Linked DNA regions of Homo sapiens. The protein of the gene in region 3 interacts with the protein of the main gene of each other region in a biochemical or structural test. Each region holds a gene or a part of one and is shown on either strand. Other genes may lie near its edges.

Evidence for each region.
Region 1: the proteins of TPT1 (region 3) and RHEB form a complex in vitro, tested with the Homo sapiens proteins (one study listed by IntAct).
Region 2: the proteins of TPT1 (region 3) and SIRPA form a complex in vitro, tested with the Homo sapiens proteins (one large-scale study listed by BioGRID).
Region 4: the proteins of TPT1 (region 3) and NOTCH3 form a complex in vitro, tested with the Homo sapiens proteins (one study listed by BioGRID).
Region 5: the proteins of TPT1 (region 3) and EEF1A2 form a complex in vitro, tested with the Homo sapiens proteins (one study listed by BioGRID).
Region 6: the proteins of TPT1 (region 3) and TSC22D1 form a complex in vitro, tested with the Homo sapiens proteins (one study listed by IntAct).

What each region holds. Positions count from the first base shown.
Region 1 is NC_000007.14:151,477,185-151,482,464, forward strand, and holds part of RHEB (GTP-binding protein Rheb), read right to left. Parts: intron 232-5,280; coding exon 149-231; intron 1-148. UniProt on the Homo sapiens protein: Small GTPase that acts as an allosteric activator of the canonical mTORC1 complex, an evolutionarily conserved central nutrient sensor that stimulates anabolic reactions and macromolecule biosynthesis to promote cellular biomass generation and growth.
Region 2 is NC_000020.11:1,915,339-1,920,618, reverse strand, and holds part of SIRPA (tyrosine-protein phosphatase non-receptor type substrate 1 isoform 1 precursor), read right to left. Parts: coding exon 5,164-5,280; intron 1-5,163. UniProt on the Homo sapiens protein: Immunoglobulin-like cell surface receptor for CD47. Acts as docking protein and induces translocation of PTPN6, PTPN11 and other binding partners from the cytosol to the plasma membrane.
Region 3 is NC_000013.11:45,335,578-45,339,963, forward strand, and holds part of TPT1 (translationally-controlled tumor protein), read right to left. Parts: intron 4,026-4,386; coding exon 3,920-4,025; intron 3,200-3,919; coding exon 3,083-3,199; intron 2,033-3,082; exon of another isoform or gene 1,977-2,032; coding exon of another isoform or gene 1,899-1,976; exon of another isoform or gene 1,812-1,898; coding exon 1,809-1,811; 3' UTR 1-1,808. UniProt on the Homo sapiens protein: Involved in calcium binding and microtubule stabilization. Acts as a negative regulator of TSC22D1-mediated apoptosis, via interaction with and destabilization of TSC22D1 protein.
Region 4 is NC_000019.10:15,157,401-15,161,409, forward strand, and holds the end of NOTCH3 (neurogenic locus notch homolog protein 3 precursor), read right to left. Parts: coding exon 3,262-4,009; 3' UTR 1,638-3,261; downstream 1-1,637. UniProt on the Homo sapiens protein: Functions as a receptor for membrane-bound ligands Jagged1, Jagged2 and Delta1 to regulate cell-fate determination.
Region 5 is NC_000020.11:63,488,307-63,493,586, forward strand, and holds part of EEF1A2 (elongation factor 1-alpha 2), read right to left. Parts: intron 4,982-5,280; coding exon 4,831-4,981; intron 2,430-4,830; coding exon 2,173-2,429; intron 847-2,172; coding exon 612-846; intron 120-611; coding exon 1-119. UniProt on the Homo sapiens protein: Translation elongation factor that catalyzes the GTP-dependent binding of aminoacyl-tRNA (aa-tRNA) to the A-site of ribosomes during the elongation phase of protein synthesis.
Region 6 is NC_000013.11:44,569,180-44,574,459, forward strand, and holds part of TSC22D1 (TSC22 domain family protein 1), read right to left. Parts: coding exon 3,984-5,280; intron 1-3,983. UniProt on the Homo sapiens protein: Transcriptional repressor. Acts on the C-type natriuretic peptide (CNP) promoter. Acts to promote CASP3-mediated apoptosis.

The DNA.
Region 1 (5,280 bases), on a different chromosome or scaffold from region 3:
AATCCAGTTGCTCCACGAGAAAATCACTAAAAAACATGTAGCCTAATAATTCTAATTGTCACTATTAATAATTCCAGCACAGTCCCTTAAAAGGATCAATGTTATCTATGAGTAGCAAATCAACTCAAGCAGGCAGCAGGAGTCTTACCTTTTGATTGATGTAACAGAATACACAAGAATATAGCCATTAATATCTATGGAGTATGTCTGAGGAAAGATAGAATATTCATCCTGTGGGGAAAAAAAATTATCTTTGAGTAGTCTTCATATAGCATCACAAACAAACTTTACCCAAAGTTTTTCATGTATTACCTGAAGAAATCAAAGTAGACGCAGAGTGGATTACAATATTATGCCAGAAACAGCCTACAAAGTGAAGCTTTAAGAATGGCCTGGAGGTGATAATGTGGTTCAAGCCAATATTTAAAAATGACTAGCTGTTCTAGAACTTTAGGGGAAAGTCTGATGACCTTCATAATTTCTGGGAGAAGAGGATGGATGGAACACAAAAATCATTGGCTCTGTGATCTCAAAACAAGGGATGAGCATCACTAACTCCAGAACCTTCTAGACCTCAGGACATTTATAAATCCTGCTGATTTATCCCATAAATCTGTATTTTTATATTTGAAACTGGCATATTATTTGATTTATTCTCTGCATGTCAGTCACAATGACCTGAGCTTCAGTCTACAGGTTGCTAGAGGGGTGCCATCAGCATCTGAAGGAGAGAGGGAGAGAGGGAGGGAGGTGGGGGAGAGAGAGAGAAACAGAGAAAGAGAAAAGAGGATCAAAACACCAGGTTCAATTGAGGTATTCAGACTTTTGGGGACCAAGAGAGTTATTTACTGAGCAACTCTAGGAATTAAAGAGAAAGGTACCTATTACGCAACAGCACAGTAGTCTTTAGTTTTATAAAGCAGCGTTATGACACTTTGCTTTATATACGTATTAAAGCATACAGAAAGTTCTGATGTCAGTGCAGTTTTCAACAGCACGCGCCACTGTCTGGTACGAACGTTTCATTCTTAGTTGAAACTAAATTGTCAACATAACACATGTCCTAAGCACTATTATGGAAAAATCACATCATGGTACCAGAAGATTAAGCAGCAGTCTATTATTTTTGTAAACTTATAGTATGGTTATAACCACTGTTTATGACAGCCCAGAATTACTGCCCTATGGTAAAGTTCTTTAAAGAAAAAAAAAAAAAGAAAAGAAAAATTAAGTTTTATTATAAATTCTTTGATATAATAAATAAGATTAAAAACAAAATCCCAAATGATTTTAATCACTAGCTCAGCTAGAGTAGGTTCAAAGTTAAAATTCTGTTTTCCCTAAAGGGAAACTGTGGAAACATAGAAAAAAGAAGTTATGTCTAAGAAGCACTGAGTAAAAAACTACCAGTTAGAAGGTATAATGGAGGAAAGAGCCCCCAGCTGATATAATTCTGATTTTTTTTTTTGAGACGTAGTTTCCCTCTTGTTGCCCAGGCTGGAATGCAATGGCACTATCTCAGCTCACTGCAACCTCCACCTCTCAGGTTCAAGCGATTCTCCTGCCTCAGCCTCCTGAGTAGCTGGGACTACAGGCTACACCACCACACCTGGTTCATTTTTGCATTTGCAGTAGAGACAGGATTTTACCACGTTGGCCAGGCTGGTCTCGAACCCCTGACCTCAGGTGATCCGCTTGCCTTGGCCTCCCAAAGTGCTGGGATTACACGTGTGAGCCACTGCACCCAGTCTGATTTTTTTTTTTTGAGACAGTCTCATTCTGTCACCCAGCCTGGAGTGCAGTGGCAGGAGCTACTGTGCCCGGCCTTTAAAGTCTACTTTCTGAGAAAGAATAATAGCAATATAACAATATAATAGCAATTGGGAGGGCAGCTGAGTAGAAATCATAAAGCTCTCATAAGTAATACTGTACTGGCTCACAAACAGAACAGACTGAAAAATCCAGAAAGACCTGACAGATATGAGAATGAGGTACATGATAATATTGGCATTTCAATCAGTGAGGACCAAAAGTAACCCTCAACTGAGTGTAGGGACAAGCCCAGAGCCACCTGAGGATGAATGGCTAAGCTGGAACTCCAATTCACACTTTGGCAAAAACATATTCCAGAGGAAGCAAAGATTTAAAGATGAAAACGATGCGTATGATAGATGGGAGAGCTTAAAATACATTATCAGTTAAAAAAAGATTAATAAGGCCGGGCACAATGGCTCACGTCTGTAATCCCAGCACTTTGGGAGGCCAAGGTGGGCAGATCACAAGGTCAGGAGATTCATATCATCCTGGCTAACACAGTGAAACCCCGTCTCCACTCAAAATACAAAAAAACTAGCTGGGCGTGGTGGCGGGCGCCTGTAGTCCCAGCTACTCAGGAGGCTGAGGCAGGAGAATGGTGTGAACCTGGGTGGCGGAGCTTGCAGTGAGCCGAGATCGCGCCACAGCACTCCAGCCTGGGCGATAGAGCGAGACTCCGTCTCAAAAAAAAAAAAAAAAAGATTAATAAATAAATTCAACTATGTGAAAAAGTTCTTCATGGCTGCAAACCCCTCAAATAAAAACCATAAATAAAAGACAAACTGAAAACAAAACTGTGCATCTCAGATCATATACAAAACGCTAATTTTCTTCACATATCAAGGGGAATCTCACATCAACACGCAAAGACCAACCACCCAATAGAAAAAAAATGGCCAAGTACACAGACAGGATAATTCATAGGGGGAAAAATACAAACATCTTCTAACATAGGAAAAATCAAAGCCCCTCCTAAGAAGAAAAGTGCATTATTAAAAGTACACTGCATTTTTAAAAGTACACTGCTTTTTCTCACCTATCAGATTGGTAAGTACCAAAACGTTTGCTAACACATAGTGCTGGTGAGGGTGTAGGGAAATAGACACTCTCATTCACTGCTGGCAAGAACATGAACTGTAACCCTATGATAGCCCACATCCAGGAAGTTTTCCTATGTGCATTATTACCCTATGTCTAAAACAACGTCCGGGATGTTCATTAAGGGACTGCTGATGGTAGCAAGACCAGCAACAGTCTAACTGTTGATCAGCAGTTAACTTAGGATATATATCCCAACAACTGGATATTACGCAGCCTTGGGGGAAAAGGAGGCCATAGGTATTGATATGGAATAATCTCCAAGAGGGAGATGTATTACTTTTTGTGTAAAAAGGAAAAAAAACAAAACAAAACCCAAGCTTAAAACTATATTTGCATATTCATGTATCAAGTATCCTAGAGGCATATACTAGAAACTGGTAAATGTGGTTGCTGGTGGGGGTGGGGGGTTAGATAGCTAGGGTAGGAACGTCTTAAGTTTTACTATTTACACCTTTTGGCACTATTTATTTTTGTACCATGCGCATTACACCTATTTTTTAAAAATTAAACTCAATTTTCAAAAAAGCAAATTTGGTTACATTATAAGATGGATTGTCATTGAATCAATTTTAATTATTATTAATTATTATTTTTTTTTTTTGAGACAGAGTTTCACTCTTGTTGCCCAGGCTAGAGGGCAATGGTGCAATCTTGGGTTACTACAACCTCCGCCTCCTGGGTTCAAGCAATTCTCCTGCCTCGGCCTCCCAAGTAGCTGGGATTATAGGCATGTACCACCATGTCTGGCTAATTTTGTAGTTTTAGTAGAGACAGAGTTTCACCATGTTGGTCAGGCTGGTTTCAAAATCCTGACCTAAAGTGATCCACCCGCCTTGGCCTCCCAAAGTGCGGGGATTACAGGTGTGAATCTAAGTTATTAACCCATTTATGCCGGAGGTTGCAAAATTTTTTTTTTCATGAAAAATCAGACCTTGGTGACCTTGAGCAGTAGGATATAAATAACTCCCACAAGCTTAACGTTCCAATAATGTAACACCAGGCATAAATAGGTTAATATAGAAGAGGCTACTTTTTTTTTTTTTTGATACTTCACATTCTTACCCCAAAATTCATTTAGGGTATATGTTCTCACCCTAAAATTGGGCAAAACCAAAATATTTCATGCAATCTAAAAATAATCTGTATTTAACCATGTTCATCATCATTCCTAGGTGGGCAATTAAACCACTATTAAACCATAGTGGTATGGATGTACCGACATAAACTACTAAGTAGTAAATAGAACTTGCTAACAAATACCGCTATGCAGCAATTCACTGCGTGCAATTTCACTCCTGAAATGTGGAAGCCAGTGAACAAATTTACTATAGATTACTTTTAAAAGAATTTGCCCCTTAATCATTTTACCCTACTACTACCAGTCTTAATCCTAGAACCAGCCCCCGTATGCATCCAATTTATAAAGCAGCTCTTGGAGCAGTAAACACCTGAGTTTGTTATCATCCAGTTTTCAACAGAATGAAGGGTGAAACCACGGCAGGACATGCCTGTGTGCCACCATCCTGAGCTGTAAATAAAGAGCACATCTTTAATTTATTGTCTCTCAACTGTAAATATAACCTTCAAGAACTACTAGTTGCAATGACTACAAATAATTTAAAGTAGCCAAATTTGGATATATTTTGTGCAAAAATTCTCCAAATACTCTTACCCAGTTGTAATATAACCCGAAGGGGCAAGACAACAGGGCTGCTAATATGACCACTGCTCTTGTCTTATCTCATATCATATACTCTTCCTAAACACTGGTGCTTTTGGTTTCACTATTTGTATTACTACATCACTAAAATATTTTAAATTGTTTGATACCTGAGTGTACATTTATGTTCCAGGGCAAAACAGTACCCCAGAGGAACACATATTCCAACTTGATAAGTAGTCAGTATAAAGAAATTTATTCTTTAGAGAAATCTTTTCAAAGACAGCTCTCCAAGTATTAAGAACATGTGCACTTCCACCATGCAGCCTGTCAACACAGTTAATATGCTGGCGTCACACTTGCCTCAGCAGCATTGAAGGTCTACAAAGAAAGAGCACAGCCTCTTTAACCCCAATGTGACAATCCTGCAACAATGCCAGTTATCACTATTTATAGATAAAGCTCTGAGGCACAGAAAGACTTCTTCACCCTTTTATGTAAAGAGATGGGATCTCGCTGTGTTGCCCAGGCTGGACTGCAGTGGTGCTATCACAGCTCACTGCAACCTCAAACTCCTGGGCTCAAGTGATCCTTCCACCTCCCACAGTGTTGGGATTAAGGGCATGAGCCACCATGCCCAGCCCTCATTCGCTTCCTTAAGGTTACTGGGTTAGCAACAAAAACCAAGATTCAAATCCAGGCAA
Region 2 (5,280 bases), on a different chromosome or scaffold from region 3:
TTTGGTGTCAGTTTTAGATAGACACTAAAGATCACCAAGTGTGGAGAAAGCCAAAGTGGTTAATTATCAATTAATTACACAGACACAGGGCGCCCAAGCAGGCAGAAGCACTTCCTGGGTCCTGAAAGCACACACATGGCTGAATCAGAACGCGGGCTGTTTCTCCCTGCAGATGGGTCGTAAACGTGTCTCCAAATTGCTAATCATTACCCCATACCTCCTATCGCAGTCACCAGGAAGCACATATCACACATACTTGCATTTGTAAATATTAACTTCTCCCTCACACCCATCAAACATTTTGAGGGCACAGTAAGGAGGGTGTCACTTGAAGAAGTCAAGTCATTGAGGCCAGCGGCCTGGATGTCCCCACAGGGCTGAGGGGCTGCAATCAGTTCCCATTTATCCAGGGCTTCTCTGGAGCTGGACACTGGCTGCTCCCTCCATGCCCGTCAGCTCTTTAATCCTCACTCCATCTCTGTGAGGGGATCCTCGTGTGAGCCCCTTTTAGGACAAAGCTCAGAGAGGCCCAGGGCCAAAAGTGGATACAAACCCCACCCTGTTAAGAAGAGGGAGGATGAATGCAAGCACAGAGCCTGGTATGCAGCAGGTGCTTAATAAATGACCCCTGTGACTGTTATCAGGAGGTCTGGTCATTACTGCTTCCGAATCTACACATTTATCCTTCAGGCAGCAGAACAAAGCAGAGCAGAAACACCAAGAAAAGGCTCAAACCCTGCTCCCTGTGGCTCATGACAAACCCAAATGATACAAGGAGCAGAAACCACCAAGTGAGGATTCTCTCCCCTTTTCTAAACAATCCCCTCAGGAAACAAGTTTGGCGAATTGGCTTTCAAAACACAAGATCACAGGCGCCTCCCTCCAGAAGAGCCATTTACAGAAGCTGGAAGCATTTTAAAGGAGGAGGGAACAGACTCCTCCGTGACATCTTGGTGTGTCGAGGCAGGGAGGGTTCTGGGGCCGAATTGGAAGGATTTGCTGGGATTCCGGCGGTCATTTAGACAAAAACATTTTCAGGATGGAAGGTTTCCCCACACTGAGGCTGGATCTGAGCAGGGCTTTGTCTGGGGCCCCTACCTTGGCCCCCGAGGCCTGTATCATAAGAGGGGGTCTGGCCAGGCCACTGGGGCCTCCAAAGAGCTGTCCCGGGTGCACGTTGTTCAGAAGCATCCACACCCTGAAAAGCTGTTCTCCCATCTGGCACCCCAAGAGGACCATCTTTTCCAACTTGTCCTCCGTGACCTCTGGGTGTCTATCCCAGGGGTTTTCAGTCCTGACTCTGTATTAGAATCTTCTGGATTAATTAAAAACTTTAGATGCCTAGGCCCATGCCAGGCCAATTGAAGAGGCATTTCTGTGGTGGAGCCTGGGATTTATTTCAATGTTTCCCAGATGATCCTAAAGAGCAGCCAAGATTGAAAACTACCTGAGTACATCCTAAGGACCATTTATCCTTGAGGCCTGGAGGAGCACTAACCCATCTGAGGTTGCATGGCTTCAGCATCACACAGCTCACATCTGTTGAACATTGACTGCAGGCCAGGCGCCTGCTGCCCTAAGCACGCTACAGGATTTAACTCATTCGGTCCCAACTCCTGGTCTGTGAGGTTGGTGTTATCACTGACAAGTGAGGACACTGAGGCCCATGGTGGTGGAGTGCCTTGTCCCAGGTCACAGAGCCAGGAGGTGGCAGAGCTGGGATGTGGCCCAGGCAGTTGGACTCTGGCCACACTCTCCTAACCACACTTCTGCAGGAGCTCAGTGATAACCCGAACACCGCCACCATTCCGAGGCTCTGTACATCCTCTCCAATCCTCACAGAACCTGTGAGGGTTGGCAATCATCATCATCATTTCATAGACAGGGAAGCTGAGGACTCAAGGGAAGCCAGGATTTGCCCAAGATCACATGACCTTGGGAAAACCCCATTGCTTACTAAGGTCTATCGTCGCCCCAGGCTCATTGCATCCTCATAACATCCTGGAAAGGTTGGTACAATTATCGACGTTCTACGCATGGGGAAACTGAGGCTCAGCAAGGGGAACTGGGTTGCCCAAGGTAACACATCTTAAAATAACACCTTGATGGCAGGGCGCAGTGGCTCACACCTGTAATCCCAGCACTTTGGGAGGCCGAGGTGGGGGGATCACCTGAGGTCAGGAGTTTGGGACCAGCCGGGCCAACATGATGAAACCATGTCTCTACTAAAAATACAAAAAAAAAAAAAAAAAAAAAAAGCTGGTGTGGTGGTGGGTGCCCCTGTAATCCCAGCTACTTGGGAGGTTGAAGCAGAATCGCTTGAACCCAGGAGGTGGAGGTTGCAGTGAGCCGAGATGGTGCCATTGCACTCCAGCCTGGGCAACAAGAGTGAAACTCCATCTCAAAAAAAAAGAAAAAACAAACAAACAAACAAAAAACCTTGATTTGGGGGTGTCTACTCTGCATTGGGTGTTTTATACACAGGAACTCAAATCCTTTCCACTCTGCCAAAGGAGTCCCTGATTATCACCATTCTACAGATGAGGAAACTGAGGCTGAGAAAAGCGAAGGCACTGTCTCCTCATCCCTCATGTACCCAATGGGCATTTCCAGTGTTCCCCAAGCTCTCATGTCAATCAATTGAGCAAGTGCCTGAACTTCATGAACCCTGACACTGACCACCACCTTCCCTTTTTCCCTTTGAGATCCCTGACTTCATGCAGTTCTAGGGAGAAGCCTCCCTCCAGGGTACCCAGATCTGGTTACCCTATAGCCATAAACTGAAGTCAGTGGGCTCCTGACAGCCTGAGGGGATAATATAAACTCTTGCTCCAATGAGCCCCAAGCACCCACCAGGAAATGCCTCATCTCCTCATCCTTAGTCCTCAGCACCGTGAGTAGGTGGGCACGTGGTCTGCTGGGCTGCAGGAGGCCCAACTCTGCTCCATGGATGCTACTCAGTGATGTGCTGAGACCTGTCCTTTAGGAACAAGTTCCCATATCATGAGACATCTGCAGGACCTTTCTGATGGGGGCCAGTCCCTCCTACTCCCATAGGACTTGTTTTGTTTTTTCTTTCAAGACAGAATCTTGCTCTATCACCCAGGCTGGAGTACAGTGGTGCGATCTCGGCTCACTGTAATCTCCGTCTCCTGGGTTCAAGCATTCTCCTGCCTCAGCCTATGCTTATTGCTATAGAACTGCAAGAGTTTGGAATGAGTAGGGTGGAGCATTTCTCCACACTTTGACAAGCATAGCTGAGTGTTACAGAGACAGGGGCTGTGAGTCAGGCTGGTGGGGATCAAACCTTGGCTCCCCCACTGGCTCACCACACAGGTCTCCTCTCTGAGCCTCAGAGTCCTTATCTGTAAAGGGGGCAAGAAATGGCTCTTCCTTCATAAGTACTTGTTATAAAAGGAGAAAGTGCCAGGATGAGGATCCAATCCAGCTGCTGCTCCCTGGCCCCCTCCCACCTCCCTCCTTTCTCATCCAGGGCATCATTTAGGCTGACAGCATGGCAAAGAGGAGTGAGCACTCTGCTAGGAGTCAGCAGATCTGGGTCACACCTGAGCCACGTATTTGCTGTGATTGTCTAGGCACGAGATGCATCATCTGGGAACTTCAACGTCTTTTCCTGTAACATCTGCACAATCAGGATAAAGCCACCCTCCCTGCCTATGTCCAGCGGTTGTGGGGAGACTTGATTGTTATAATGTCTAGGAGGGAAATTAGGCCATATCCACACACATTAAAACACACACCCCCTCTGATCTAGCAATGGCACTTGCAGTGGGCGTCTCCCACCTGAGTAAGGTCACACATGTATAAGGTCATCCACTGCAGGACTGTTTTAATAGTTCAAGTTTGGGGACAAGTTACGTATCCATCAATGGAAGATGGTAAAATAAATCTGGTATTTCCATAAGCTGGAGTATTCTGTAGCTATTACACAATGGAGCAGGTCTCTATCCTGATATGAAATCTCAGTATCAAATGATATGGCTTACATTTGGGAGCGGTTTTCCAATCACCAGTGGGCCTAACGGTCTGAATGTGAATATTCTGAACCTTTAGGAAACTGATGGAAAGGAGAAGTGCTGGCTTCCTGCTTAGCAGTTCTGTTCAAGGAGCTTTCAGTCGGCACCTATGATGCACCAGGCTCTTCTATGTAAACAATGGCTAATGAAGGAGCCTCCCTGGAATCAGATGTGGGCTCTGGTCCAGATCCTGTCACTAACTGGGCCTATGACTGTGGACAAGGCCCCTGTCATCTCCTGACTTCAAGTTTCCACCTGTAACTAGGGGTTGGGCTGGATGGTCTGAGGGTCCTTCCTGTACTAATGTCCCAGGATTCGGAGTTAGAACAAGGATCCTGGGGCTCTGGCAGTAAATACAAAATGAGCATCTTTGCTGCCTTAACGGAGGAACCCAAAGTCACCTAGAAGGGAGACCTCCTCCCTGGGGTGAGAGACATTCTATGATGACCCAGCTTTGTTCAGAGCCTTTAGTGACGCATGAATCAGTCCCTAAATCACACAAGTGTTTTTCTAAAAGACCCACAGAAAATGCCCAACCCTCTGGCTTCTCCTCTCACCAGGGCCATCAGATTAAACAGTAAATCTGTGCCTTTTAGGAATCTTCTCAGTTGGTGTTTGGTGATGAAATAAAGGAAACACACCCTCTCTGCTCCCTGCCCTGGGTGGATCTCTTATTGGAAGGGATGAGAACACAAGCTTGGCGGAGCCTGGCACACAGTAGGTTCTCAGTGAGTGCCTGTCACATAGAGGAGACTCGGCTGCCCTGAGAGGGAAGTGCTCTCTGGAGGCAGCAGGTGAGGTCTGGTCCTGTGCCTGGGCAAGTCACACTATCTGTCAGTTTCCTCATCTGTGGAATGAAAGGGCTGGGTCAGCTTTGAAGAGGCCAGGGCTACACAGCCAGGCAGATGAAGGATGCAGATGTTCCCACCCTTTACCAGCTGTGGAGCCTTCAGCAAATAGCATGACGTCTTCAGGCCTCAACTTCCCTTATTTGTAAAAGGGGGAGACATCAATTCATGGAAAGGAGCACCTACCACCACACCTGATCATTGCTCAAAGAATGGAGGGTGTTATTATTGAGTTACTGTCACAAACCAGAGGCAAAGGAGGCCCACGCTGTACTCACCGCGCACAGACAGCTCAGTGCCTGCTCCAGACTTAAACTCCACGTCATCGGGGCTCCCTTTCCGGAACTTCACACAGTAGTAGGTGCCGGCATCTGCTGGGGTGATGTTACCGATGC
Region 3 (4,386 bases):
AAAGGCCCTGTAGATGAGACTCACACTTTTCATTACAATGTCAAATCAGAACGCTAAGCCAGGTGCAATGCCTCACACCTGTAATCCCAACACTTTAGAAGGCCAAAGCTTGAGATCACTTGAGGCCAGAGTTTTCAGACCAGCCTGGGCCACATGGCATGACCCCATCCCTACAAAAAATCTATCAGAATGCTTAAAATTGCTATTAAGTTCCCAATACGTATTTAGGTTTGTTTCCAATCACGGGGTGCTGGGGGTTAACATTAGTATCTGCCTCAGGTTTTGGACACTATGGACAGTCTGGAATTTGACACTAGGGCAAACTCCAGATTGCTCAAACCACTACATTCACATGTTCAAGCAGACCAGAGTCACTGGCCTGCTTTTAATCTTTCTTTTACAAGTGTAATCAACCAGGTAAGGCTGATAGACTATTTCCCAAAACTCACGTTTTGAAAATTCCCCTCCCAGGCTAGGCCTGCACTTTGGGAGGCTGAGGTGGGCAGATCTCCTTGAGCCCAGGAGTTGAGACCACCCTGGGCAACTAAGCGATACTCGGTCTCTACAAAAATTAGCTGGGCATAGGGGTGCATGCCTGCAGTCCCAGCAACTAGTGAGACTGAGGTGGGAAAATGGCTTGAGCACAGGATGCAGAGAATGCAGTGAGTTGCTTGTGCCACTGCACTACAAGCCTGGGTGACCGACCTGCCTCAAAAACTCTTCCCGCTTTTTTTCCTCCTGTATTCCTCTATTCAATCTCAGCTGCCACAATTAGACAGACGGAAAGCGCAAGGACATGTTCTTCTTGCATCTGTGGTGGAAACCATAGCAGCAGATAGCAACTGCTCCAGGTCTGTCAAATAGATGCATTTTCTTATTCAGACACCCCATCTTTTCAGATACAATATAGAGAACATTTTTACCCCTTTGCCCACCAGCCAGCCCACATTCTGTGTACCTTCATCTTTTAAATCAGGGGCTGGCAAACTTGCAGGCTCTAGTCTGTTAGACACAACTCTGCTCATGCACTGACAACAGCCACAGTCAATCCATAAATGAATAAGCATAGCCACGTTCCAATAAAACTGGACTCGAACTTAAATTCCATATCCCACAAGGTATTCTTTTCCCCTCAACCATTTAAAAAGGCAACCAACCACCTTAAAGTGTACAAAACAGGTGGTCAGATAGGCTAGTTTGCCAGTCCCTGTTCTAGTTACCAGGGAGTTTAATTAACATTCATCCCAAAAGACTTCGCTCTCTTTATGTGAAATAAGCTGAGACAAAGTTGCTTCCACTGAATGAGTCTCTTTTTATTCTCTTGGTAATCTCTTCCAGTTAACTACTTCCGTTGTAGGTGATGAAATGGGTAAGGCTCCACACTTCAGATGTTGGCACTGCTATGAGCATGGTCTTTCCCTTTATTGCAACTCAAAATCAGAACCTTTGATTCTTTTTTATATTCCAGTCCCAGAAGTAGTCTCCACTGTAGAAGTTAATTGATGAGTAGTAGCCTACAATCAGGCTCTAGCTTCTCCAGGAACACTACAGGATCAATTTAGTTTAAATATGCATTAAACTAAAAGGCATTCTCTCAAATGAGTTTAAATGCATTTTATTTTTAGACAACCTACATGACATGTTTTTCTTAAAAACAATGCCTCCACTCCAAATAAATCACAGTCAAAATAAATGAAGAGCTCAAGATGACATCAGTCCCATTTGTCTTAAGTCCTGGTGTTGTGTGGATGACAAGCAGAAGCCAGTTATGATGACAGGTGATAGATCCAAAATAATTGCCACATTTGTTACTGTAAAAGCAAAAACTACATTAATATTTTTCAAACATTACACTGCAAAAGTTACATTACCATTAACATGCAGCCTACATTTCCAGGCTAAAGATGTATTCCCCAATTCAATCTGGGCCGCCACAAAGACAGACAGAAAGCGCAGGGATTTCTTTCTTTTGCATCCTAGTGCAAACCAAAAGAACAACAGTAAATTGTTCAAGGTCTATCAGTGGATGCAGAACACCCTTACCAAATCAGCGGTAGCTCATTTTTCAGAAGGCTGTGGCATGTACCACCCACACCCTGCTCTACCAACAAAAACCTCAGATACTGTCTGAATAACCCCTTTGGTAAGTCATCTTATACTGTTCTAAGTAATTTCTGTCTACTGTTGACTCTAATCTTGTTCAGTATAGCTTTATGTTTTTCTTCTTCCTTATACAGAAGCCTATGAAAACTAGGATAATGAATGCCTTTGTTTCTGTACAGCTTCCAGCAGTTCCTTCCATAGAAGACACCAAGTTATTTATTATTAGTAAAACAATTTGCATACCAGTTCAGCAGTCAGCTCTATTTACTAAGCTAGTACTGCACTAGGCTTTTCAATGATCAGCTGCCCATTATCAGTAAACCAAAGTGAAAACCACTGATACTGATCCATACGTATACAGCAAAATATGATTATGAAGTGAAAGTGAGGCCATATCTAGAGGAAGATCAATGGTGTTCTCTGATCTCCTTCAGCATTTAAACTCTACTGTATTTTTTTGAGACAGCACCTCACTCTGTCACCCAGGATAGAGTGCAGTGGTGGGATCTCTGCTCACTGCAACCCCCCTCCCAGGTTTAAGTGATTTTCCTGCCTCAGGCTCTCGATTAGCTGGGATTACAGGTGCCCGCTGCCATGCCTGGCTAATTTTTGTATTTTTAGCAGAGATAGGGTTTCGCCATGTTGGCCAGGCTGGTCTCGAACTCCCAACCTCAGGTGATGCACCCACCTCGGCGTCCCAAGTGCTGAAATTACAGGTGTGAGCCACCACACCCAGCCTAAACTGTACTTTATTATGCCCCATCTGCACTCAACGTTTTCCACAAATAAGATTCTAAGCCTTTTTATACCCTAAGAATTTTTTACATATGAAACACAATTCTCTTGATCCCCAAAGAGAAAACTAAAACCATGTTTCAGAACGCTGTAAAACTCATTCTCAGTGTCACAAAACAATTGCAAATCACATCTAAAATGTCTTTTTTACATTATTTATTTTAACCCACTTCCTTGTACTTACACATTTTTCCATTTCTAAACCATCCTTAAAGAAAATCATATATGGGGTCACACCATCCTCACGGTAGTCCAATAGAGCAACCATGCCATCTGGATTCATGTTTTCACCAATAAAGAACTTGGGAAGCAAACAAAATACCTAGAATTAGACTATTACATACAAATACATGCCATTCAAAACAAACTACAGTACAAGGGAAGGTTTAGACCACCACAAAAATCAAAACTTCAGTACCCAAAAGCTCTGATGCTCACTTATCATAGACATCTGTTCACTGGATTAAGGCACCTTAATAGTGACCTAAATAGAAAAATAACGTACAGAGCAATCCAGGAACACTAGGCTTTCAGGAAACCTTTACTCTCAATCCTAAATACAATCCCAAACCCTAAAGCGTGCTTATATAGTCAACCACAGGGAACATAAGGCTGACAGTGATAGAATATATCATACAGTCTGGAAGTATCTTATGGCCAGGGGATGCATGAAGCTGGAAAATTAGAGGAAAGGGAAAGCCACTGACATTTTCCAAAAGTAGAATTAACAAGCTCAGATACATTAGAAGGAGGACCAGTAGCAATGAGACACATTAAAATTGTAAGCAAAAAACTGAAAGAACACTTAGGTGGTTAAGCAATTCACAAAAAGAAAAACTGAGAAATGTCATCTGGGAAGCAAATTTTCAATCAGAAGACAAGATTTGGAAACACCTGCGAGCTGGGAAAGCCACTTTCTACACCTGGAATACTAGTATAGAATTGAAGATTAATCAACTTAATTTTTGCTCTTGCAGTTAAAATTGTACAATCCTTTGATCCAGATACTTAAGGTATTTACCTGGTAGTTTTTGAAATTAGCAAGGATGTGCTTGATTTGTTCTGCAGCCCCTGTCATAAAAGGTTTTACTCTTTCTGGTCTCTGTTCTTCAAGTTTCCCTTTGATTCTAAAACAACATTTCATTAACAGGTTGAAGTATTGAATTTTCAGTAAAATCAATTTTTAAAGTAAAAAATATCCAAGCTTAAAAAAAGAAAACACTGAAAAAGGCAACCAGCTGTTAAGAAATTACTAGTTCACAGAAGGTATCTTTCAAGAATGTTTACATTTCTTGTTGACTATTTTCAAAATACTATTCTAATTCTAAACGGAAACAGACTGCAGGCTTCAGTATGCTCATATTATAGAAAAGCAACCACTCTTTTCCGTGAACTCATTAATAAAAAAGCAAGGACTTTCACAAAAGTATACCCACTGCGAAAGAACCTCAAAAGTTAGCCAATCTTTAAATCCTGTAAGATTCTAGA
Region 4 (4,009 bases), on a different chromosome or scaffold from region 3:
CAGAAAGCTCTAGTAGGAGTGAGGAAGAGTAGGTTGCTGCTGTGGGCAACTGGGGCTTAATCCCAAAGAGCATCCTTTGGGAGACTCTGTGGATCATATCCATGAATTCCCACAGAGAGTGGCGAGGAAGCTGGGGTATTTATCCACCATCTCTCATTCATCCCTCATATGTTGAGGGTTGCTCCTGCCCCACACAAGAGAAAGTTCCCAGGTGGAGAGTCTCAGGTGTTCAGTCAGATGCTGTCAGCAAGCACTAGAATGGTAAGTTCCAAGGGTATACAGGGGTGCACCCCCCATACATCCCTCAACTAGCCTGAAATTCCATAAAAGCAGAGACTGGGCCTATATAATTCACCATTCTATTCTCAACAACTTGTCCGGGAGTTGGCACACGGTAGGTGCCCAATACAGGTTAGAGGGTAAGGGAATAAACATAAAATAAAGTTGAGACAAACCTAAAAGAGACTGTTTCATCTTCAAAGACTTAGCCTAAAGGGGGTGGGAGAGGAGTAAACATTTATTAGAAGCTTCCACAGAATTCATGCTTCTGCAAACCTGATTGCCCCTAAATTTAGCACATCAGTAGTTCCAAAGAAGAGACTTTAAGACATGCTTTAAGACAACAACAGGTGTGAATCTGCCTCCCAGATGACAATTGGCAATGTCTGGAGACATGTTATATTGGTTGTCACAACTGGAAAAGGGGTGCTGCTGGTAGCTAATGGGTAGGGACCAGAGATGCTATTAAATATCCTACAATGCACAGGACAGCTCCCCACAGCAAAGAATGATTTGGCCCCAAATGTCAATAATGCCGAAATTAAGAAACCTTAGGTTAGAGGGTGGATACGTGAACCAATTGGAGTCAATAGAAAAATCAACCACAAGGTCGAGTGCGATGACTCATGCCTGTAATCCCAGCACTTTGGGAGGCCAAGGTGGATGGATCACCTGAGGTCCGGAGTTCGAGACCAGCCTGGCCAACATGGTGAAATCCTGTCTCTACTGAAAATACAAAAATTAGCCAGGCATGGAGGTGGACACCTGTAATCCCAGCTACTTGGGAGACTGAGGCAGGAGAATTGCTTGAACCCGGAGGCGGGGGATGCAGTGAGCCGAGATTGTGCCATTGCACTCCAGCCTGGGTGACAAGAACAAGACTCTATCTTAAAAAAAAAAAAAAAAAAAGGAAGAAAGTAAAAGAAAAATCAATCACAATACTAGGAGTTTCTCTCTTCCCTGGAAGGAGCAATATGGCACCTATTTTGATAACACAGAGAGAAGGCTGGAGCTGTGTGATGTCGGGAAGAGAGGTTCTACTGGGTGCCATGTGGAGCATGTAGATGAAACTGATGCCCAGAGAAAGCTGTAGAGATGAAGAGAAACTGAGCCATTGTTGACCACATTTGAGCCACTAGATCAATTCTCCCCTGAAGTAGGTCCTTTTAATTTATATGAGCTAATAAACCCCTTTCTTGTTTAAGCCAGTAGACTTTTGTGTCATTTGCAACCAGGAGCACTCCAACTGACAGAATCAACGAACATTAAATCCTATCCTCCTTTCCTGAAGACACCAGTGTAAACAGAACCTTGTCTTGGAGCACGACTGGTTGCGAGTAACAGAAACCCACCGAAGCTGGCACAAGTAAAGAAGTATTTATTACATGGGTCCAAGGTTATCTCCAAAACCCATAGGAGCATGAAGTAAAAGTGAAATTCATGCAGAACCATGATCAGATACTTAGAAAGCAATTAATAAATACCTGTTGATCTCAATGGAATGAACACTCAATTAACTGGAATTGATAACTGCACTGGGAGCCGAGATAACCCCCCCAGCCCTCAAGGAGCCATTTGAGCTCTCATTTCTGATTCTCCCTGAATATTAGCTTCATTCTTCTGCCCTGTTTGCTTGTCTCTTTGCCCACCACCTCGAATTGGCCACTGATATTTCTAAATCTGATTGTGACCTTAAGAGCTCCACCAACTGACAACTTTCTTAGCCTCTCCATTAAAGAAAGTTCTCGAGCAAAAGAATCTGATTGGCTCAGCTTAAGTCAGGTGACAACCACTAATCCAATCGGTAGTCATCTGCCAAAAGAGGAAGCATAAGTAGACTGGCAAGTCAAATGTATTTACCCCAAGATGGGAGCTCAAGTTAGCCCTGGGTGGGGGAGATAGAAGTCCCACTGCCACCACTCCCCACCTTACCTAGACACAGACCAACAACACTGAGTGTTAACTATTCCTTTATTAGGTGGTGAGGGGAGTGGGGGGCTGTACAATGCAGGGCTTGGGAATTCAGCTACACAGGGATTTTGACCAGAAGCCATATTACAAAAATAGCCTAAAAATACCTCTATTCTGCCATGAGGCTGGGCCAGAGGATTACCAGGAAGAGAAAGTACCACTCAGGCAGCTCCTCTTCTTGTAGTCCCACATTTACAGGGACACAAAGGAATGCATACATCTGCCCTGGCTCCCATTTCCCACCAGCAGCCCCCTAGTTCCCAAAGGGAGATGGCCAAGGGTGGGGCTGGGGCAGAGGGAGTTGGCAGTGGGCCCTTCCCCAGCAAGGCTATGGAACATGTCCCATCTGGAATGCAGTGAAGTGAGGGAGGTGGGGTGGGGAGGAGGCTCCCAACACTCCCCCGACCCCTGGCCCCAGTGGGTGCGCCCAAGGGTGCCTACTTGGTACATACCTGGGTCGTGTACTCGGTACACGGGATCCCAGTCATGCCTGTGTACTAGGTACACAGAATCCAGCTTGGCCGAATGGGCCCACAGACTCAGCCCCACGGGGGCACTGGGGGGTTCACAGGGGGAGGGAGCATCTCCATATATATATTTTGTAAAAAATAATAATAATAAGTTTGTTTAAATGAATTTGTTTCTATACAAAATGTAAAAAAAAAAAGAAAAATAAAAATAATAATAATTCATTCATGTCAGAGTGTAAGGAAATGAGAGGCCAGAAGGAGAGAGAAAGGAATGAGGGAAGAGAGAAGTGGGGAAGAAGGAGGTCCCAGACTCTTCACAAGACTGAGAGGGTGGGTGGTAGCCCCCACCCATTATAAATAAAGGAAGACTGAAGCCCTGGGCTGATGACCTATCTCGGTCACGCTGCAAGGCAAGGATGCAGGAGGGTTGGTGGAAAGAGAAGAGGATGAAAAAGACTAAAAGGAAGGAAGAGACAGAGAAAGAAAGGAGGCAGGACGGGGGTCTCTTTAGGCCCCCAAGATCTAAGAACTGACGAGCGTCTCAGGCCAACACTTGCCTCTTGGGGGTAACTTCCGGCTGGGGCCCCAGCTGGGTCTGGGCCTGAGCAAGGGAGCTGGGAACAGACAAGGGAAGTGGCTGGGCAGGCAGTGCCCCAGTGGTGGTGGCCATGGCCCCAGTGGCAGTGGCTGGGCTAGGCGTGGATTCGGACCAGTCTGAGAGGGAGGGAGGTGAGGGGCTGGCCCAGTGCTCAGGGGATTCGGGGGATGGGGTCAGGTAAGGGTGCTCACTGGGAACCCGCAGGAAGCGGGCCTTTGGGGGGCTGCTGTGTGCCCCAGCCGCCGGGTACTCCTCGCCATGTCCTGGGACTGCCAGGTAAGGCGGGGGCCGCTCCTGCGGGGAGACGGGGGTCCCTGGGTTGAGCAGCTGGGGTCCCGGCGCCAGTGGCAGCAGGAACGAGGGGCCTGGAGGGGCAGGTGGGGGCAGCCGGGCCCAATCGAGGGGCACAGCCACAGGGTTCAGCAGGCCCAGGCTGAGTACACATCCTCCAGGGGGCTGGCGCCCTAGACCCGCCCGGCCTGGGCCACCAAGCTGTGCCAGAGACACTGCAGTGGCAGTGGCAGCTGCATAGGGCCCCTCAAGGGGGAAGCCACCAGGGGAAGCAGGGGGCCCACCGAAAGGCCGCGGGGAGTCCAGCGAGTCCACGGGCGACAGCGTGACCGAGCTGTCAGCCAGGGGGCCCGGGCAGGCCAGCGTCAGCTTCTTGCCCCGCCCCCGGGGCCCCTGCGGC
Region 5 (5,280 bases), on a different chromosome or scaffold from region 3:
CGCCTTCTGCGCCTTCTGCGCCGACTTGGTGACCTTGCCGGCGCCGCCGCTCTTCTTCTCCACGTTCTTGATGACGCCTACGGCCACCGTCTGCCTCATGTCGCGCACGGCGAAGCGGCCTGGGGGGCGGGGGGCGGCGTGTGGGCGGGGCCGGAGGACTTGACCCCCCCCAACCCCAGGGCTCTGGCCGGGCGGGGGCGCAACCGCGTCGGGAATGTCCTCGGAACACGCTTAGCGCAGAGCGCGCCCCTGTGAAGACGGCCGGCCTCGCGGGAGTCCTGCCTGGGCGGCTGCTCCACGGTCTGCGGGGCGGCCACGGGGCGGGGGCAGCCCTAACGCTGCCACTGGGCGACCGCGGGCCTTCCTCACTCGCGGGGCCTCCCTCACTTTCGGGGCCTCGTCTGCACACAGGGCCCACCCCAGCTCGTCTGGGCAGGGTCACCTGCACTCAGTGACACGGAGGCCGTGGCTCTCCTGCCATGCTCTGGGCCAAGCTCCGCAGGAAAGGGGGCCCACTGCTGTCCCCAGCGCCCCATCCCCGCAGTCCTCTGCCCTCAGCCTGGATCAGCCACAGCCTGGGGGCTGCACCTCCCCGGACCACCCCGGCTCACCGAGAGGCGGGTACTGGGAGAAGCTCTCCACACACATGGGCTTTCCCGGCACCATCTCCACGATGGCCGCGTCTCCAGACTTCAGGGACTTGGGGTTGTCCTCCAGCTTCTTGCCAGAGCGCCGGTCAATCTTCTCCTTCAGCTCCGCAAACTTGCAGGCGATGTGGGCTGTGTGGCAGTCGATGACCGGGGAGTAGCCGGCGCTAATCTGCCCCGGGTGGTTCAGGATGATGACCTGCGAGCGGAGCCACAGGCGGCCATCAGGCACATCGGCGGTGGGCACCGGGAGGGCGCCAGAGCGGGGCTGGGAGGCCCAGTCACCGGCGCCCCTGCACGGGCTCCTGGGCCCGGAGTGCTGACTGGAGGGGGCTCAGGCTCTGAGGACCCAGCCCCCAGACCTGAACCTCAACATCCTCATTAAGCAAAAGATAAACAACTGAGATTCATTGTTTCGAAGGGGCAGGGGCAGCACTTACACGGCCAACCCCAGCTGGAACTAAGGCGGGGGGGTGACAAAACTGGACCTCAATTCCTGTGTTTCAGTTGTATCTCAATAAAGCCACTTTTAAAAATCATATGAAGAGGCCAGGCACGGTGGCTCACACCTGTCATCCCAGTACTTTGGGAGGCTGACGCACGTGGATCACTTGAGGTCAGGAGTTCGAGACCGGCCTGGCCAACATGGTGAAACCCCGTATCTACTAATAATACAAAAATTAGCCAGGCGTGGTGGCACATGCCTGTAATCTTACCTACTTGGGAGGCTGAGGCAGGAGAATCACTTGAACCCGGGAGGCGGAGGTTGCAGTGAGCCGAGATCGCACCACTGCACTCCAGCCTGGGCAACAGAGCGAGACTCCGTCTCAAAAAAAAAATAAATAAATCATATGAAGAGGCCAGCAAAGAGGGGCAATGAAGACTGTAGAGAATAAAAGTATGACAGAGATGTCTCAGACAGTAAGTTAACAAAAGCGTTTTTCTAGGACGAATGTAGGACCTCAAAGGCTGGGCATCCCAGCAGTGCAGCGTGGAAGACAGACCCGCGATTGCACACAGGCTGGGAGCCACAGGGCCTGCACCCCTCCCAGAACTGATTGATCCCCTCGTTGAGTGCTCGGTGGCCCCCTCGGTGGTATGCGGGTCCCTTTTCTTTTTTTTTTTTTCTTTTGAGACGAAGTCTCGCTCTGTCACGCAGGCTGGAGTGCAGTGGCGCAATCTCGGCTCACTGCAACCTCCGCCTCCCAGGTTCAAGCGATTCTCCTGCCTCAGCTTCCTGATAGCTGGGACTACAGGCACGTGCCACCACGCCTGGCTAATTTTTGTATTTTTAGTAGAGACGGGGTTTCACCATGTTGACCAGGATGGACTTGATCTCTTGACCTCGTGATCTGCCCGCCTCGGCCTCTCAAAGTGCTGGGATTACAGGCGTGAACCACTGCGCCCAGCCTGAGGGTCTGGTTTTCTCCCCACGCCAGGCCACCTGCCGACAGCAGCCTCACCCAGGACAGTCCTGCTGCTGTCCAGCAGGCGCCAGCCCCCTGGACCCAGCGCAGCCCCCCACCTGGGAGGTGAACTGAGCAGCCTCCTGCGGCGGGTCAGACTTGCTGTCCCCACACACGTTGCCCCGCCGGATGTCCTTCACCGACACGTTCTTCACATTGAAGCCGACGTTGTCGCCGGGCAGAGCTTCGCTCAGAGCCTCGTGGTGCATCTCCACTGACTTCACCTCAGTGGTGATGTTCACTGGCGCAAAGGTCACCACCATGCCCGGCCGCAGGATGCCGGTCTCCACCCGGCCCACGGGCACCGTGCCAATGCCTGCAGAGGGGAGGGGGTGTGAGGGGAAGGTGGGGCCCGAGGGGATGCTGGGGCAGGATATTCGGGGACAGAGCCTGGAAACCAACAAAGCCTGGGACTGGATCCCCCCGACAGGCCTGGGGGTTGGGGCCACATGGGCGGAGTGCAGGGGAAGGGAGGCCAGGGACAAGGGCAGACACAGAGATTCCAAGGGAAGTGGGGGCTCTCCCACCCAGCTGGGGAAATAAGAGGCTGAGCAGCAGAGCTCCCAGGAACCCACGGAAAAGCCACAGGGACAGAGAAGCGGGAGGATGGGCAGAGAGGGGCTGTCTGAACCTGGGGTCCCATCCTTGCCCCCGGAGAGCACTTTCCCTCAAAGGAGGCACTATGGGACCCCTCCTTTGTCTGAGGACTCCTCCCTGTGAGTGTGGGCGGGGCGACTGACTGCTTCTGCCTGGGGCCTGGTGGCCCTGCTCCCTGCTCCCTGCAGGCCCTGCTCCCTGCTCCCTGCAGGCTCTCTGGGCCCCACTTGGATGCTGCAGGTCTCTATCACTAAAGGGGCCTCTCAGCCAGATGCAGCACAGGCACAGCGGCACATGAGCGTCCCTGGCATTTCTCATGGATCTACTTAAACCAATTGTGCAGCTGCCACATGGGGGTCTTGTCCCCCCCCAGGCTACTGGGTCTCCACCCTCACCTCCCAGGGCTGTGAGGGAGGCCTGTTGTAGCCTCCAGCCAACTTCACTGAGGCCAGTGGCTGTGCTCTGTGCTGGGGTGAGCATGATGCCCCCACAGTGCACACAGAGATGCCTGCAACATCTTTGGCTGCAGCCCACTGGCTGGGGGTCTCCTATCAGTGCCCTTCTCTAGGGTCTCAGATTTGTTTATGGTTTCTCTTCTTGGTGGGATGGATGGATGGATGGACGGATGGATGGGGAGGTGGGTGGATGGATGGATGGATGTATGAATGGGGTGGTAGATGGATGGGGAGGTGGATGGACAGAAGGATGGGTGGGGAGATGGATGAGTAGGGAGATGGATGGATGGATTGGTGGATGGATGGATGGATGGATGGATGAGGAGGTAGATGAGTGGATGGACAGAAGGATGGATGGGTAGGAAGGTGGGTGGATGAATGGATGGATGGGGAGGTGGATGGATAGATGGATGGATGGATGGATGGATGGATGGATGGATGGGGGGATAGATGGATGGATGGATGGATGGACGGACGGATGGGGAGGTGGATGGATGGATGGATGGATGGATGGATGGATGGATGGATGGATGAGGAGATGAACGGATGGATGAGATGGATGGATGGATGATGGAGGGAAGGATGGCTGGGTGGGGAGATGGATGGATAGAGAGGTGGATGGGTGGATGGGGAGATGGATGGATGGATGGATGGATGGGGAAGTGGATGGATGGGGAGGTGGATGGATGGATGTATGGGTGGGTAGGTGGGTGGATAGATGGATGGATGGATGGATGGATAAATGGATGGATGGAAGGATGGATGGATAGGTAGGTGGGTGGATGGATGGATGGATGGATGTACAGAAGGATGGATGGGTGGGTAGGTGGGTGAGTGGATGAATGGATGGATGGATAGATAGAAGGATGGATGGGTGGGTCAATAGATGGATGGATAGAGAGAAGGATGGATGGGTGGGTAGATGGATGGATGGATGGATGGATGGATAGAGAGAAGGATGGATGGTTGAGACAATGGATGGATGGATGGATGGATGGAGAGATGGATGGATGGATGGATGGACAGAAGGATGGATGGGTGGGGAGGTGGATGGATGGATGGAAGGATGGATGGATGGATAGAGAGAAGGATGGATGGGTGGGACAATGGATGGATGGATGCATGGATGGATGGATGGAGGGATAGAGAGAAGGATGGATGGGTGGGACAATCAATGGATGGATGGATGGATGGATGGATAGAGAGAAGGATGGATGGGTGGGGAGATGGATGGATGGATGGAGAGGTGGATGGATGGATGGATGGATGGATTGATGGACAGAAGGATGGATGGGTGGGGAGGTGGATAGATGGAGAGATGGAGGGATGGTTCGATAGAGAGAAGGATGGATGGGACAATGGATGGATGGATGGATGGAGTGAAGGATGGATGGGTGGGGAGATGGATGGATCGATGGATGGATGGATGGATAGATAGATGGATGGAGAGGTGGATAGATGGATGGGTGGATGGATGGACAGAGGATGGATGGGTGGGGAGGTGGGTGGATGGATGGATGGATGTGGGATGGACTGTCCCACAGAAAGTGTGTGGTAAGGGGAGAGATTGGAGACAGCCCAGTCTTGAGATGCCTTGTAGGGGCCCCTGGTCTAGGGCAGGCAGAGCTGGCCAGGCAGGAGCTCCAGCACAGCGCCCTTGCTCACCGCCAATCTTGTACACGTCCTGCAGCGGCAGGCGCAGGGGCTTGTCCGTGGGGCGCGTGGGGGGCAGGATGGTGTCCAGGGCCTCCAGCAGGGACACGCCGCTTGCGTTGCCCTCCTTACGCTCCACCTTCCAGCCCTTGAACCACGGCATCTGGACCAAAGGGAGAAAATCAATCCGTTAAGAGACATTGGTGGCCTCCCCACCCTCAGGCCTCCCCAGGGTGCTTCCAGGAGTACTGCTGTTCAGGCTAAACTTGCCTCGTGCCCTTTGAGATGAGGAATTTCCCCACCCTGCTCCTCCCCAGCCCATAGCCCCAGCATCACAGGGACTCTGGGAAGGAGATCCCTCTTAAAAGGAGGAGGACAAAGAGGGAAAGCACCCTTCCCAGCCCAGGCTGCTCAGGAGTTGCTGACACTGTGAACAAATCCCCAGTCCAGCCCCAAGTCCCC
Region 6 (5,280 bases), 770 kb from region 3:
CATCATTTTTTTAATGAGAAGATTGAACCATAAAGAGGATAAATAGCCCGATGTTACATAAAACTAGTAAATGACAAGAAAGATCAAATCTAGGCAATCTAACTCCACAGTCCATGCTCCTAACGAGCAGGCTATATTACATATCTAGTGGTAAGACAAGCAAGTTATTTAGAGACTGGGAGGTAAATACCACAATAATCATCTAAAAGAGGTGAAAGTGATTGTTTCTAGGAAAGGAAAACTGGAAAGTAAGGGTGCAGGAAGCTCTTCCATTTATTTCTTGGAAAACCATTTAAACTATCTTTAAACTGTGCATGTACATCTTGAAAAAAAAACTTTAAAAATTATAATTTCGTATTTTAGTTAACAAAGTATTTTAACTGATACTACTGCTATCCTGAGAAGCAGGCAAAATGAGTATTACTCCTATTTTATAGGTAACACACATGCGTCTTAAATATTTGAGGACCTACTATAAAACAGGCAATGTACTTTGCAGACATACATCAATTCACCTAAAAATGTTGATGAGAGATACAAAAAAGCAAGTCTTTTTATTCAGTTCTTTTCCATTTGTTGCATAAATTATATGATCCTGCATCTCTCACAATTGTGCTTAAGATGAGGGACAATATAAACTTTAAATCATGACAAAAAAAAAATCAGGAGAAATGCCTGCTAATTAATTCAAAAAAATAATTCATCCCTGCCCTTGAGGAACATCTAGTCTTGTGGGAAAGATTGGTAAACATAATTATAATTGAATGTGTACAGTGCTTAAATAGAGGAATATTAAAAAGTGCTAAGGAAACAATGTCCCCTGAGTGAAAAGAATGCTTTAAAGAGAACATCTGAGCTGAGTCTTGAAGGATGAATAGAAGTTTGACCCATTTCACGTTAAGAGGCTGTGCTAATAACAATCACAAAACATAAAAGATGCAATACCTGTATTTTCCCATTCTTGTAAAGGTGAATTCACAGTTCATGTTACAGTCTAAGACATTAAGACTTTTTTTTTTTTTTTTTTTAGAGACAGGGTCCTGGTCTGCCACCCAGGCTGGAGTGCAGTGGCATGATCCCAGCTCACTGCAGCCTTGACCTCCAGGGCTCAGGGGATCCTACCACCTCAGCCTTCCAGGTAGCTGGAACTACAGGCATGCGCCACCATGCCTGGCTAATTTTTGTATTTTTTTGTAGAGACAGGGTTTTGCCATGTTGCCCAGGCTGGTCTCAAATTTCTGGGCTCAAGCAATCTGCCCACCTCAGCCTCCCAAAGTGCTGGGATTACAGGTGTGAGCCACCGCACACGGCCTGACATTAAGACCTTTTAAATAAGAATGATTTTTTTTAAAACAAGATACATAATCTTAGCATCCTGATCCATGTTTATAGTCTCTCCCAGTGATCAACTGAAGGCACTTTCCACATGTCTAAACATTTTATAATCTAAAGTGTTAAGAGTATTATTTCAAAAGATGATTAAAAGATAACCATCCTCATCTGTCCTACTGCCCAAATTATATTGTTAACACATTTCCTGATTCATAATATTGAAATTATATATGTATTCCCTCTCTCCTGAGACTAATGGTGACCAAGCCCAGAAGATGCAAGTGACAACAGAAGCTACCATGGGAAGAAAGGTTTTAAAAGTTTGTTTTTTAATCATATCACTGTTTTCTCTTGTAGTTATTCTTAAATTATCTTCCAAGGGCAAATTTAAATGAAAATTAACTTTTTTCCAAACTGTAGTGATAAATAATCTTCAGTAAAACACAATAAAGAATATAATATATATCTTTTCTGATCTTACAAGGTGTTTTAGGGCTACATTCCGATTTCACAGAATTTAAGATACCGCTAAAACAAAAATTTTCTGGTTTTTAATCACGAAACTTTGATGTTAACTAACCAAGGCCCAAATAGGTAGTAAATTCAAAACAGTCCCTGCTCTTGAGGAACTCCTGGTCTTGTGGGAGAGACTGCTAAACATAATTATAATTGAATGTGTACAGTGTCTGAAGACAACTTGTATTAGAGCTATATTTCCTTATTTCTCAGTATGTCTTTTTGTCCCTTTCTAGAATTCCATAATTTCCACCTTATTATTCCTTTTCTCAATTATTATCTGGAAAAATTAATTTTATATTAATATCTTAAACTGGGACCCTATTCCTATAGTTAAAACTCTAGTTGAAAGTAGCATCATCTGACTTTAATTGCCTGGAAGGGCAAGCTGTGGAAAATCCTATCATGTCCTACCAATAGGAGGAAAAAGAGGTGAAAGTCAAGCCAGGAGACCACAAATGGCAATTACAAAATCATGGCAAGTTTGAATTCAAAATGAGTGTTTTTGTTTGTGTATTTTACCCGTCTTTTGTTTCTCTAAACTTAGCATCCACATAATATAGCTGTTTTTATAGAGGCTTCACTCAAATCATAACCTTTTGACTTAAAAAACATTAATATTTGTGGTAATTCTTTTAAAATTAGTTGAGTATTAGCATGATAAAATTAAAGGTTTAACAATAATAATGGAACAATTAAGGAAACTACCTCCTAAAAGTTTATCTTTTAGAGTACAGTTTTGTACAAATAATACAGAATACATTTGGTTAGGTAACAAGGTTTTAATTACCTGACTATTAGAAAAATAATAAAAATCTTGAAAGATAAGATTTTATCAATTTAACCATGTCTTTATCTTACCTTTTAAACAACTAAATAACACAAACCTCACTGAAACATTTGACCTGTTTTCTTTTTCTAAAATTACAACTATTTTGCAATATGCTCAATTTTTCCAAAGCAAAACCCACAAACATACATATAGAATATAAATGCTTAAATTCGCTTGATGAAAGTTCAATCACAAAACCCTCCAACTAATACTAAAATAATTAAATATCTTGCACGCTTACTCCAAATTCCACCGTGAAAATGATGTCTTTTCATAACTCCTATAATAGCATTTTAATCAAGGTTAGTAACAGACTGGAAAATTTGTGAAAAGAACATTACTTTAAAAATCAACATGAAAGATTTCACAACTTTTTTAGCCAGTCAGCTTCAAAGACACAATTTGATTCAATAAGCGTTACTGGCATATTATTTCCAATCTACGTGAAAAAACGCTTGGTTTAATAATGTACTTTAGGCTTTCTGTATCTTTTTGGTAAGGAAAGAAAGGAACAGGTGGAGTAGATTAGCCAGAGACCAAGGTCTTATTTTCACGCCTCTATAAATTCAATCCTCCAAGACTTACTTTCTCTGTTCTTTAAAATGGCTACCACCTTGATCTACCATGCAAAAGAAAAAATGTTCAGCATACTATCAAGATAAGTCTGGTTATTTTGATAGTTTATGTCCTCCTTTCCCACAAAATAAGATTCCCATTCCTTTACTGTTCAGATAAAATGACCATTAAATAAGTACGCAAAAGTTGGTCAGTTGGAGTATGAGGGCAACCTATATAACCCAGATTAAGTCATCTTTCCTACCATATCTGACTAGGAAAAGTAGGCAACAATATCTTTCACAGACTAAGATCAAACACAGTAGAAATGAAAAAGGGATGTCTAGTAAAGGAGAACAAACGTGGGAACCACAACCCCCCAAGAGATTATTTTAGCAGCTCAAAATAGATTAACTATTATGTGGGTTAGCAAAAATTAAGCTTTCCATAATATTTCTAAAAAGCATTTTAGAGATAATAAAACCACTTGGCGCCCCCAAACCTGTTTTTAATGTGAACACATGCTCAACAACTATTCTGAAAATATTGTTTACATATTACTATTATTTCCTACTCCCTCTGAAACCATTCCATAACTCTTGCTCTATAAAACTTCCCATAAAAATGCATTTTTCACATACAAAACACAATATACAATGTTTTAGAGTCATTTTGTGCATACATATAGCTACTAAATAGATTAACTTCAAATCTGTTGAATGTCTCCAGAAATATGACATGATCTTACCTCTCATCCTCGCCATCCACCAGGGGTGTCGTCAGCGGTAGCACCTTCAACGGGAAAAGAGAAGCAGAGGCTGCTAGGCTGCTGCTACTCCCATCTGAAACTGCTGACATTCCCCCACTGTCACCACTGATAGTCTGAGGTAAGCCAACTAAGGAGGGCTCCGCTGCACGCCTGGCATCTTCAATTTGGCTTCCAATTGCCTGAGCTAATGATTGTGCGGAGAACTGGGTAGAACTTAGTGGTATCTGTTGTGCCAAAGGCAAATTTGTATTAGTTGCTATCAAGGGAGGTTGACTAACACTTTGAACCAAATTACCATTTTGGGTAGCAGGGGTTTGTGCTATATTTTGTGGTGGAACCAAGTTTGTTGGGGCAGAAGGCATTCCAGAAGGACCAGTTGAACTAACCTGACTTGTAACAGAAATACTACTAGCAGAGGGCAAAGAACTAACTGCAGGCAACTGCTGTGAAACAATTCCTTGAGCTACTGGTTCTACTCCTTGTGGCTGGGGAGGCACAGTTAACAAGGAACTTTGGGATGCAATAACCAATTGTTGAGGAAGGCTTGGAGCACTAGTTTGAACTCCCTGATGAATAATCCCAGTTTGAGCAGGTGGAACCACTTGCGAAGATGGAGGAGCACCCTGCTGAATAACTGAAGGTGGAACCTGGGTAGAGGGCTGCTGCACTGCAGTAGGTATGTTTGCTTGCTGACCAATATTTGCAATCTGACTGCCAGTAGGTACAGCAGACACTGCTGCCGGAGCCTGGCCAACAGGCTGGACAGATGCCCCTGCAGGTTGTGCTGGGACTGCTGTGGGCTGCACTGGCAGCTGGATACCCTGTGGCTGAGCCACAGGAATCACTGTTGTTCCTGCTCCTACTCCTGCAGAACTGGGCTGTCCGGAGGACATTGCTGTTTGAAGAATTGGCTGCTGTTGTACATACTCTGAAGCAGGATTTTGAGTCACTGATTTGACATGGCCTGGGGCCATCTGTGTAGAAACCATTGGTTGCTGTTGTCCATACTGTAACTGTTGGGGTGGTGGTGCCCCTGGAAGGGGAGTTTGCACTGGAGGAGCCGCCTGAGAATATGGTAGCTGGGGTTGAGCCAAACTGGAAATGGAAGGCTGCTGACCTAAAGCTGAAGTTACACCAACCACATTTACAGGCGATGGCTGGATACCAGTTGCAGCACTCATAGTGGCTTGCAGAGGTACTGGCTGAAGACCTTGCTTTTGCTGATAGCTCAGTTCTTGAGACTGTAATTGTACTTGTGAGATCTGTGACTGAGAAA